2 linked regions of the Homo sapiens genome follow. The protein of the gene in region 1 purifies or fractionates together with the protein of each later gene. This does not show direct contact. Each region holds a gene or a part of one and is shown on either strand. Other genes may lie near its edges.

Region 1 (3,500 bases):
TCCCTGGCAGCCACCCAAAATTGGGCAAAAATGCACTTGCAGAATGAGAAGCTGCGATCACCTCAGCTTGAAAGACTCTGTCCTATTTCAACTGGAATGACCTCCCCCTCTCCTTGGCCAACACTGAGGCCTTTACAGGGAAAAAAACAAAAACAAAAACACCACAATGATAATTTTTAAAAGATAAACAAGGAACCTTAGGACACCAGCCAGGACAGAGCTTCCCAAGACAGCACAGGTCCCTTCTCCTCCAGGCAGCCTACCCTGCTTGCCAGGCCTGCCTGTCTCCCACCCTGGACAGGAGCCCCAGGGGCACGGGTGGTCAGGTCCACGAACCACAAAGTCAAAGCAAGCTGCATCCAGTCCCCGTTCTACTGCCTAGCTTTATGTGACCCTGGACAATCCCCTTAGCCACACCGAGTCCTTACCTCTGAAACGGTGATAAAAATTCTCACCTCCTAGAGTTACTATGAAGATTAACTGAGATCATGCACACACAGCAACGTAGAATGAAACTAGCACATGGTAAACTCTCAATCTACGTTAGCTAATTATTATCGTAAAATTCTGTGGCACAGTCCGTACTAAATACATATTTATTTTTCTTTAATAATATGTGAATGGATTCCTAAGATTCATTCCTAGAGGCTTTTGTCTTGTTCATCTCAAGAAGTCTTGTTCTTCAAGATGCTCAGCATCTTGACCAAAGCCTGGCACAAGTTATGTACCCAGCTAATACTCATTAATCCAAGCAATGCTTCTCCAAGCTGCCTCAGGGACCTGTGTCCCAGTGCTTTCCCTGGCTTAGACAGCTTGGTGGTATTTAAGTCTTCTGAATGGCAAACGGCTGAGGTCATGTGTACTGTTCTAAGTAAAGCAGAGGGAACTGGAGTGGGCAGTAGAGGGTAGTGGAGGAGTGGGTAAAGAGAGAGCTCGTAGCTCCAGGGATCCCCCAGGCAGAGGCTGTGTGCACCTGTCCCTCTTCTTGCAGGGATCCCGCCGGCCTGACAGGCCCCCACCTCACCTTGGAGGCGGCCCAGTCCATCCAGCCTTCCGCACAAGGGTTCACGTTGATAAGGACAAGGCCCTCCACCATCTCAGGGTTGTTTAGCTGCAATTCAAGACACAAAGTGAGACAGACATCCCAGCAATCTGAAACACTAGGAACTTTCCAAGGCAAACCAAAGCTTGAGAGAAGTACCCAGAAAAAGGCAGTGTGGGCAGCAGAGCAGGCTGCTGCTCCCCGGCCCCACCCCATGCAAAACTGAGGTTCCAGCACAGCAGACACGGTATCGGGTCCTAGAGAGAGTGGGAAGGAGAAAGAGGAAGTGCAGGAGAAGTAGGAAGCCCGCTGCTTTGCAGGCCTGCCTTGGGCAAGTCACTTCAACCCACGGAGGCTCAGCTTCTCCAGCTATCAAATGGGTGTAACACACCATCGACCTCATCAATCAAACAAGGCGCACAGCACAAATGCTCTCTAGTTGTGGCAGTAACAACTGTATTACTTACTTCCAGGATAAACACATGCATACACACACACACACACACACACACACACACACACAGAGAGAGAGACAGAGTTATGCATCGCTGAATAACAGGGATACTTTCTGAGAAAATTCATCATTAGGAGATTTTGTCATTGTGTGAAGATCTCAGAGTATACTTACACACACCTAGACAGTATAGTCTACAACTCACCAAGGCTGTATAGAACAGCCCTTTGCTCCTAGGTTTGCTGTACAAACCTGTACAGCATATGACGCTACCCAATACTGCAGGGAATTGCAACACAATGCTAAGTATTGATGTATCTAAGCAAATCTAAACATAAAAATGGTACAGTAAAAATGAACCATTATAATCTTATGGAACCACTGTCAAATGTGCAGTCTGTCATTGACCAAAATGTCATTATGTGATGCAGATACATACAGATATAGATATGTACACCTGGGGTACAGTTGAGACCATTTTTAATTTGCTGAGAGCCTATATGGCCAGACCATTTTGTATTCATGTCAGCATTCCTTTCTTTTTTTTGTAAGATGGATGTTGTAGAATCATGTCAGTATTCCCAACCTCCAGCAAAGCCCAGCAAATAATAGGTAGTCAAAATACCAATGGATGTACAAAATGAGTATTGTTGCATTCTTACACAATTGCTCGGTGAGGATACAAAGGAACAGTGGCTCTTGACCTGAGCCCAGAGAAATAACAATGACAACTGTCATGAAAACTTCCCGTGTCTGATTCTAGTTTAGAATCAGTTATGACCCAGGAGTGCCCTGACTACAAAAACCTGTACAGCTGTTACAAAGCAGTGTCATAGCAGAGTACTCAGTGAGTGAGGAGCGTCCTCACTAGATGGCTAAGCGGACAAAGCCCATGACAAAGGAATGTGTCCAGTATCATCCTTGAGTGGAGGAAGAGAAAAGGCTGTGAGTATATATATATACGAGTACCCATGCACCACACACACACACACACACAACTGTGGAGAATACGGGTCATTTCTTTTTCCCTTTTGGGTTTTTGATGCTTTTCCAATGTCTTCCTTCATCTTAAAATGTTATTTAAAATGCGATTTTCAAAAAATGCCAAAGCACTCACAGCAAATCGAGTTAGGATGTAGGCGCCTGCTCCTGTTCCCATGCCAATAATGCTTTTCAGCCTGGAAGCAAAAATACAAATGCATGTCACACAAGGACAGAGTGACGGGAGCCTCCAAGGACCCACTTAGAACTTCCTGAGGGTGACCGCCTGGCTAGGCAATGCGGGAGCATGCTGCCGTAACTGCCTGCACAGCTCTGAGGTCACCATGCTTTAGGACTGGACAGAGACCTCGACCTTGGAGAGCCGCGCCCCTTCTCCTCACTTCCCTCCTGGCCGCCACCCAGGCTCTGAGAGACCGTCTGACATTTACGGGAAGGCCCGTTACGGCATCATTTCTTCCCACTCTTAAGCTTTATTTTGGATTCTAAAACTTGGAATGAAAACAAATTGAGCAAGAACCATGAAGTTATCATTCTTTGAAGAGCTCAAGACAGAGAGGAACACTGGAAAAATGAGGGTGTGGAGAGAAAAGCTAAGGACTCAGGCAACTCCATTCCAGAACATTCCATGGGAAAGAGAAGGGAATGGAAGAACAGGAGGCAAGAGCAAATGGGTGGGGCAGCTGCCATCATGCAATATAACATTCACGCAAGAGGAAAACTGAAGTTAGAGGAGACAGACTAGAGCTCAGAGACTGTGTGAAGAACAGTGTTCACAGAGTGACGAGCTAATTTCTTGCCTCATCTCTAAATTGCAACCTTAATTTTAGTGGTCAGTCCAGATCAAAGCCAAGGGGCAGGAAGATGCTAGAAACCAGGCTTCTCTGCAGACAGAGAAGGAGCTGATCCTTCGCTCTTACCCAAACTGTTGAAGGACTCCAGGAAGCATTTCAGCCAGCTGATCCATGGAGGGGTACATGTACCTGGGGATGACACAGAGAAGCC
Region 2 (3,500 bases), on another chromosome or scaffold:
CAGTATGCTGAACAAGAATACATGCAGTACCATCTATATAAAGTTTAAGAATACACAAAACAATACTATACACTGTCTAAGGAAACACACATGTGTAATAAAGCTGTACAGAAATACATAGGAATAATAAACACCAAATTCAGAGCAGTGGTTAGCTGTAAGATTTGGGGGAAAGGAGTGGGTTTCTTTAAGTGGATTAAATTTTATGAAATATTTTTCAAACATACAGAAAGTGCGTCAATATTTTAGTTAAAAGACAGGAAAAGAAAATGGAATTAGCAGACTATGGGATCCCAAATTCCTTTATATTCCAATCTAAAAAGTCAATAACAATTCCTGCGAAGTAAGGTTAAAGGGGAAAGCATCCTGAGGAATTATGTTCAAGTCCAAAAAGAAAATTCTAGGCCGGGCATGGTGGTTCACATCTGCAATCCCAGTACTTTGGGAGGCTGAGATGGGCAGATCACGAGGTCAGGAGTTAGAGACCAGCCTGGCCAACATGGTGAAACCCCATCTCTACCAAAAATACAAAAATTAGCCGAGTGTGGTGGTGGGTACTTGTAATTCCAGCTCCTCGGGAGGCTGCGGCAGGAGAATTGCTTGAACCCGGGAGGCGGAGGTTGCAGTGAGCAGAGATCACACCACTGCACTCCAGCATAGGTGACAGAGCAAGACTCTGTCTCAAAAAAAAAAAAGAAAAAGAAAAAAAAGAAAATTCTAGTTAAATTCTCTCAATTTCCTTATGATTTCCCCGGGGCGGGGGGGGGGGGGGGGGGGGGGGGCGGGGGGGGCAGGGCAGTTTTATTTGGGGCAGCAACTTTGTGTAATTAAAACAGACATAAAACTGCCCCTAAATGTCATCACAGCTCCTTTCCCTACACAATCATGCCTTCAAAGGTTAACATGAACTTCAAACTGTCACTCCAGAGAGGAGATGCAGCGCCCAGGTTAAGAACAGGGACTCTGGAACCAAAGTGCCTGGGATGAAATCCAGCACACATTTAGCACACAATCGTGCAAGTCACTTAAATTGCTCTGTGCTTCAGTTTCCTCAGCTGTAAAAATTAGAATGATAAAAGAACCTATTTTGCAGTCAGCGCAGTAGCTCCCAGCCTGTAATCCCAGTACTTTGGGAGGGCGAGGCGGGCGGATCACAAGGTCAGAAGATCAAGACCATCCTGACTAACATGGTGAAACCCCATCTCTACCGAAAATACAAAAAATTAGCCGGGCATGGTGGTGGGCACCTGTAGTCCCAGCTACTCAGGAGGCTGAGGCAGGAGAATGGCGTGAACCCGGGAAGCGGAGCTTACAGTGAGCCGAGATCATGCCACTGCACTCCAGCCAGGGGGACAGAGCGAGACTCCGTCTCAAAAAAAAAAAAGTACCTATTTTGCAAGGCTGAGATAAAAATTAGAACAGCATTTGGCCACAGTATACTATAAAGGTGTTGGCTATTATCCTTATTCCAAAGACCATTCATTTAGAAAAACAAAAACTAGGCTTTGTATCCAAATAATATAATTAAGTTCAGTTACTTTCTGCATCAAATAGGAGACAGAAAAGTTGACCATGACAGGACAGGGGAAAATGTGCAGCTTTTCACAGCTAGAGCAATCAACATGAGGATAGTAAGATAAGCAATTTTTAATTTTTCTAACAATATTCTTTGGTAGCGTTATAACATCTCCAATGCGTACACATCTGTGTACACACACACACACACACACACACACACACAGAGGATCCAAAATCAAGGTAAAACATTCTATTTCCTGGCTCCCTGTTGACCTGGGAAAACTCCAGTTCATCTTGGAAAACCTAGTTCAGCTATCATCTCCACTGAGAAGTCTCCCCTTTTCCTTCCCTACTCTGTGCCTGCTCTGCACTTTTTCTCTATTTCCTAGCAGATTCCACTGCTGCACTGATTATACCATCCTGTAATATATTTGCTCATATACCTTCTTCTGTTCCACCATGCTGTAATTTGTTCATACACCTCTTTCCTGTGGTGAACTGTGAGCTCCTTAAGAGCAGGAACTCGCCCAATCATTTCCAAATTCCGAGTACCTTGCAAAACAGACACTAAGTAAATACATGAATGAATGAATCCTTAATAACAAATACCTTCACAAACAAGCAGAAAGCTGTATTTGGAGGCCACTTATCCAAAAGGTTGGTTATTTAAGTATCTTCAATTCTAAACAAAAATTAGCAGATCAGTTGAAACTACTGAATCATCCAATTCTTTACCCTTCAAAATGGGAAACATCAAAAATACGTAAATAAACATATTCCAATAATAACAGAAGCTAAACTTTAAATTAAAAGAATTAAGGCACCTATGATGTCAGGAAAACAGAAACCGTCTGAAAGCTTTTTTCTAATGAAACCAAAAATAAACATGTAAGGAAGGCACCACAGGATTTAACATTTACAATGTCTCCTTTTTCAGAAAATAAATAAATTACAATCAAAAGTCAGATGAAAATATATACTCTATTGAGGGATGAAATTAAGACTGAGCCACATTTTAAATCAATCACACAATGCTCTTGCAACAAAGTTTTCTAAAAGACTGTCATGAGTCAACTAAAATTGGGCTAATTTTTAGAAATTTAACAGTTCTTGACAATTTTTGGCATTTGCTTAGTACTCCATAGGTTACAGGCCTGTATTCTGTTACTGTGGAAGGTGTCCCCTCCTCCCAGCAAAGACACAGGCCTCAGTTGTACTTTGGGTCCCATCCCAACCCCATCCTTTTAGGAACTCTGCACAAACCCTTTTCTAGTCTATATTCAACCACTCCCTCTCCACTGAGCCTTCCCATCAGCATTTAAACATGCTGAAATCAAACCTATTGGAAACAGTTTCTGTCTCCGTTTTCCTCACCTCCCACTGCTCCCCATCCCACCCCTACCTGCAGATCAGCATCTCTTTCAAAGGTCACCAGTGACCTCCATGTTGCTAAATTCAATGATGGTTCTCAATTCTTCTCTCATAGGAGCATTCCACAGTACTGACTCATCGCCTTGCAGGAACATCTGTTTCTGGCTGTCCTCTGACCTTCCTGGCCACTCTTGTCTCCTTGACAAGCTCAACCTCCTCTGCCCAGCTCCATCCCAGGCCTCCTTCTCTTCTTATTCTATAGCCTCCCCACAGGCAATCTCACCCATACCCATGGTTTGAGCTCTTGCCTCTACATGGAGGTCTTCAAAACGGTAAATGGCCACCCCAATTCTCAGCACAAAACCAGTACCTCAATAAAGGCCTCAAAGGCAGCTCCAGCTGAACACTTCCAAAACTAAAGTCATGCCCTTCCCATATCCAGAACCTAGTTCTCTACCAGTTAAGCCCCAGCTCAGTGAATAGCACACATACCTCTTTAGTTGCATAGGTCTGAAACCTAGTAATCACTTAGCACCTCTTTCTCCCACTCCATTTACTATTTATCACCATATCCTGACAATTTTTTATCTCCATTTTCTCAGTATTTCTGT

The links.
Region 2: the proteins of NDRG1 (region 1) and ACSL3 purify together in Homo sapiens (affinity purification with mass spectrometry; one large-scale study listed by BioGRID and IntAct). This does not show direct contact.

Annotation. Positions count from the first base shown.
Region 1 is NC_000008.11:133,255,753-133,259,252, forward strand, and holds part of NDRG1 (protein NDRG1), read right to left. Parts: intron 3,479-3,500; coding exon 3,416-3,478; intron 2,675-3,415; coding exon 2,614-2,674; intron 1,112-2,613; coding exon 1,025-1,111; coding exon of another isoform or gene 974-1,024; intron 1-973. UniProt on the Homo sapiens protein: Stress-responsive protein involved in hormone responses, cell growth, and differentiation. Acts as a tumor suppressor in many cell types. Necessary but not sufficient for p53/TP53-mediated caspase activation and apoptosis.
Region 2 is NC_000002.12:222,864,036-222,867,535, reverse strand, and holds part of ACSL3 (fatty acid CoA ligase Acsl3), read right to left. Parts: intron 1-3,500. UniProt on the Homo sapiens protein: Acyl-CoA synthetases (ACSL) activates long-chain fatty acids for both synthesis of cellular lipids, and degradation via beta-oxidation.